Regions from separate parts of the Homo sapiens genome. Here region 1 is linked to region 2. Evidence: fine-mapped expression QTL. Tissue or cell type: lymphoblastoid cells. Region 2 holds a variant in brackets; the other region holds the start of a gene. All regions are shown on one strand. Distances are from middle to middle.

Region 1 (2,681 bases), 84 kb after region 2:
ACCGACTCGGTGACTGGCTCATGGGAGAGCAGCACAGCATCCCTGGTCCTGCAAATGCTTAAAACAGAGAGAATATGAGGGCAGGCAGATGCCCTGGTCTTGACTGCTGCCCGTTGAGAAAGGACAAGCTGGAGAAGGGCTGCGTGGTCCCTGGTCTCTCCAGGCCCTGAGGCAGTCTGCTAAGAACATATCTGGGATCCTGCCCCTCACCTCCCATAATGGAGAATAGGAACCCGGCCAGCACAGCCCTTTGCACAGAGCAGGTGCCCACTTTTGTTCCTTCCTCCTTTGTTCCCATGAAGTGCTCTCACTTCTGCGGGTCACTCAGAGCTCCCCAAGCAGCCCCAGGGAGCTTGCTAGGAGTGACTGACGGGAGACAGCATAGCACATCCCAGGTGGTGAGGATGCAGTCCCGGTGAAGGGAGTGGGGATCCTGGGATGATACGATGAATGGAAGGAAACTAACAGGAAAGGCATCTGGGACCAGGTTCTAGTTTTGGCTTTGCCAAGTCCCATAAACCTCTCTGAGCCTCAAACTCCTGCGGAGAAACAGAGCAACATCCCCTACTCTACCTCCCTACAGGGTTAGATCATGGGAGTGACCAGGCAAGCTGCAAAGTAACCTTAGCAAACTGCGTTCTTACATAGGTGTGGGGATCATTATTCCTATTTCCCAGCTTCCCTTCTTCAAATAACAGGATTAATCAATCTGGTTCCGGAATCATTCATATTTGAATAGAGGGCAGGAACAACAGAAAACTTAATTAGGAAGTCAAGCACTGTGAGCCAGTAAGAGGCAAGTGACTACCCGCCACAGAGACTGCTGTTACGAGTTCGGCCTTTAGCAGCCGAACCCTGAGACGGGCTCCATCACCCACATGATTGGCCCGAATGCCATATTCCCGAAACAGGGGGATGCTTCCCAAAGGCTGCTGGGAAGAGAACCTCGCCGGTGTCACACTGAGACTTCCGCTTCACCTCGCTATCTTGCCCTAGAAAGGGAACTCGGAGGGGACTCACTGACGAAAGGAGCTCCAGATGGCGGGGGGCCAACCTGGGGCGACCCCCAGCGCCCACTTTCACCATCTGGACCCCAGCAAACCTCCCTGTGGCCCTTGGTCCCGTCTTCAGCAGCTCCTTCTGGGGTCCCACACCTTCGGAGCCCGGCCCTGCCCCTGAGTCTCTGGAGAGAGCGAGTCAGCAGTTCGCCGCCGCGGGGCTCCCGTTTGCCTAGCACGCCAGTTTCTGTCCAGTTTCACCCCAAATCCCCACCTCCCCCCACCCCCGAACCTCACGGCCACCCTGGGAAGGAGGCTTGACTTGTGACATCCACCCCTCTTCACGGCTGAGGAACTTTGGCCCCGAGCGAGGAAGCGACCGGCCCACGGCCACACGCCCGGAGTGGGTGAGGCTAGGAGTGGGCCCGCTCCGGGACCCCTAGGGACCCTACCTCACTTCCGGGAGGGTTGAAGGGGGGCTCCGGAGGGAGGATCGCCGCCCCCAGAGGGGACAGCCCGGAGGCCCACGTACCGGATCGCGGCGCGCACAGCGCCCCGCCTGCAGGAGCCCGGGCGCGCTTCCGGGTAGGACCGCGTGATCGCGCACGTGACCGCCCGCCCCGGGAGGGGCCGGAGCCGCCGTCGCCTTCCGCGGGTTCGAGCCCCGCCCCTGCCAGGCCTTGCCCATGCCCCATTTTACAGAAGAGGAAACGGAGGCGCAGAGAGAAGAAATAACTTGCTGAGGGTCCGAACCAGGCTCAGAACCCAGGTTTCCTGGCTCCTCAGCTGATCCCTTCTCTCCTCCCCATGCCCCGGAACCTCAGGCTTTGCCTAATGAACTGAAGTTCTGGGGCTAGAGCTGTCCTTTTGTGACTGCTCTCCCTGACCTTTGGGGAGGTGACATAGCGCACAGAAGGGCTCAGTTGCCCCCAGAGTGCCAACGCTGGAATTTATAGGAGTTCTCAATCTATTTTGGGAGTGGAGTGCACATTAGGAGTTTTGTGTTGAACCTATGTTTGCAATATTTATTTTAAAAAATCGTATGTGTATTGGGGGTGCCTGGAAGTGGAGGGGGCGCTCTGGAAGGGCCTAAATCCCCGAACAGTCCACCCCTCAGTGCCTGGGTGCCACCTGGGAGCTTTGAGCCCAGCCCAGCAAGGTATGGGTTGCAAGAACTGGCTGGGGATATAGTAGATTGAGCATCTCTTGGGGGAAAGGCAGAGGCTAAGAATCAATACTTCCACCACCTGCAGATCAAAGAGAGCATCACTCCCCCCAACCCACTACCCACCCCTTCCAGCCCACCTTAGGGCAAATTCTTCCAACTCCCCATCTACAGCACATAGCCCTGCCACACGCATCTCTTTGCTCAGCCCACCGTTGAGATCGTTCACTCACTATGCTTTCAGTGGTCGAATGAATTCCATCAAATGGATATGCTGTTATTTACTTATTCATTCCCCTACTGGTAATTTCCATTTCCCAACTGCAATGTATGAGGATTCTGATTTCTCCACATCCTCACCAATGCTTGTTATTGTTGATTTTTTTTTTTTTAAGTATAGTAACCCAGCGTGGAGTGGTGTCTTGTGATTTTATTTGCACTTCCCTGACGTTCGGCATCTTTTCATGTGCTTTTTGCCTATTTGTGTACCTTCTCTGGAGAAATGTCTATTCAAATCC
Region 2 (2,681 bases):
CGAGTTTGTCAGTATTACTATGTATGGTTTCTGAAAATACCAAATAAAAGATAATGAGGAATCTGAAAATATTTAAAAAGACACCATGGCTTTGGCGTTGCTTGCTCTCTCAGATCACTCCCTCTGGGAAGCAAGCTGCCATGTCATAGAGGGACGCCCACATGGTGAGGAGCTGAGGCCTCCAGCCAATAGCCGGCAAGGAACAAGAGCCTTCTGTTGCCAGCCCTGGGAGTGAGCTTGCAGACAGATCCTTCAGCCTCAGGAAAGCTTCTTGATGACGCGGTCCTGGCTGACAACCGGACTGCAACCTCATGAGATACCCTGAGCCAGAACCACCAGCTAAGCCACTTCTCAAGTCCTGACTCACAGTGCTGCAAGATAATAAACGTTTTGGAGTCATTCGTAACACAGCAAGTGATAATGAAGATACGTGGGTTGAGTGGGGCTTTGCCTAATATGCCCTAGTGCCTCCTGAAAGTGAATGAGGCCAGCTGGGATGACTAGGCACTGCTCAGAGAGCTGGGGTAAGGCCACCGTGTGGTTTCCTAAAAGGAGTGAAAGTAGAGAGAGCCTGAGATGAGCATCTTCCGGAGGGAGGGACTATGTCGCCTGGGAGAGAGTCACACACACCTGGTTTCTGGGGCTCTGGGCCCCAGAGGCAGGTGTCGTCTAGGGATAAAGAACGAGAGGTAATGTCCAGAGGAGGAGGTCCCTTCTCTGACAGCCTGGGGTCGGAGGAGGCAAAGCTTTTGTTAAGAGGCAGTTCCCTGGCTTGATCAGAAGAGGAATGTCAGCCAGCTTCTGAGGACTGCAATACCAGAGCTTCTGAGGCAAACTGGGACATAGAAGATTGAAGAAGGCGCCAGAGGCACAGAGACACATTACTGGAGCCTTGGAGATGGTGGTCATGGAAGCCATTAATAAAACATGGAACTTTCTGGAACATTGGTATTCATCATCATCATCTCTCACCCTCATGTCAACACTATTTATTTATATATTTATTTATTTATTTATGACAGGGTCTCACTCAATTGCTAAGGCTGGACTGCAGTGGCACAATCACAGCTCACTGCAGCCTTGACCTCCCGGGCTCAGGTGATTCTGCCACCTCAGCCTCCACAGTAGCTGGGGCCACAGGCATGCGCCACCGTGCCCAGCTAATTGTTGTATTTTCTATAGAGATGGGGTTTCACCATGTTTCCCAGGCTGGTCCCAAACTCCTAGGCTCAAGTGTTCTGTCTGCCTCGGCCCCCCAAAGTGCTGAGATTACAATCGTGAGCCA[C/T]GGCACCCAGCCATGTCAACACTTTAATGCAGGCAGTTGCTATCCCCATTTTACTGAGGAGAATCTAATATTGTAGCAGGCCAAGTTTCACACAGGCCTCCATAACAACCGCTTCAGTACTGACTGAGTGGTTAAGTTAAATATTAAAAGCCAGTGCCTTTATACAAAGGCTAGGATGTAACAAAAGCCCACCAAGAGTTTTGTCTAGGCCTTTCCTGGGCCTTAAAGCATGACAGAATAATGAAGGAATTCTTAACAGGACCCATTTAGGATTAAACAAGTTTATTGGGGGTCTGGAGGAACTCCTAAAACCTGTGATTCAGCAGGAGAGAAGATAAGGGTAATCACTCCAGCAACTGGACCCATTAAGAGTAAGTAAGCTGGCCGGGCGTGGTGGCTCATGCCTGTAATCCCAGCACTTTGGGAGGTGGAGACGGGAGGATCACGAGGTCAGGAGATCGAGACCATCCTGGCTAACACGGCAAAAGCCCATCTCTACTAAAAAAAAAAAAAAAAAAAAAAAAAATTAGCCAGCTGTGGTGGCGGGCGCCTGTAGTCCCAGCTACTTGGGAGGCTGAGGCAGGACAATGGCGTGAACCTGGGAGGCAGAGCTTTCAGTGAGCCGAGATCGCACCACTGCACTCCAGCCTGGGCGACAGATCGAGACTGTGTCTCAAAAAAAAAAAAAGCAAGAGTAAGTAAGCTTACTGAGGCTCCAGAGGAAGGTCTTCAAGACTCAGACCTTAGTTATAGATGAAAAGAAGTTAATCACTTATGTCTTTAGATGAATGCACACCTCCATGTAGACATGTAGCTTAGAAGGTATAGAAGCTCTGGAAAACTTTGTAATTTTGAGTTGGTCTGGTGATAATTTCCAGGCCTTCTCCCTGGTTGCAGAAATAAAAATTTCTGTAACAGGTTGCAGAAATAAAAATTATCTTCCTCCCTAGTTCATCTGCATCTCGTTATTGGGCCATGAGAAATAGCAGCCTGACCCTCAGTTTGGTCCGGGAACAATAATGTCAACAATAGTAAAATGTGGATAGCTAATAAGTGGCAGAACAGGTCTTCCAACTCCAAGTCCTGGGTCGCTACTGCCACACAGCACTGGAAGTCATGAACGGGTCCTTCAACTAGGAACCAGACAGGAGGTGGCCCTGGAGGAAAACGCCCAGCTGAGACAAGGCTGATGTCAGACATTGTGCCCAGTCTGTTATTTCTCTTACTTGATCTAATCATGTGACTGTGCATTTATATGTATATGCAAAATATATTTTTAAAAGTGCATATGAAATCCATACAAATCGTAACAAATATCCAAGCACTTACCAGAAAGCTTAAAAGACAGAATTATCACCAGTAACCGATACTCTTGTAAGCCCTCCCTAGTAGAATT

The links. PIP is the estimated chance that this variant, and not a neighbour inherited with it, causes the effect.
Region 1: HPS1 starts here. The variant in region 2 is fine-mapped to the expression of HPS1 in lymphoblastoid cells (GTEx, PIP 0.95).

The regions. Positions count from the first base shown.
Region 1 is chr10:98,445,357-98,448,037 of GRCh38, forward strand. HPS1 (HPS1 biogenesis of lysosomal organelles complex 3 subunit 1) reads right to left here and starts at 1,579. Exons shown (of 20, transcript NM_000195.5): 1 at 1,451-1,579; 2 at 1-48. HPS1-AS1 (HPS1 antisense RNA 1) reads left to right here and starts at 965. Exons shown (of 3, transcript NR_134454.1): 1 at 965-1,401. RefSeq lists a silencer at 1,397-1,746.
Region 2 is chr10:98,361,013-98,363,693 of GRCh38, forward strand. LOC105378449 (a long non-coding RNA gene) reads left to right here and starts at 242. Exons shown (of 3, transcript XR_001747305.2): 1 at 242-524. RefSeq lists an enhancer at 40-334. The variant C/T (reference allele first, on the strand shown) is at 1,286.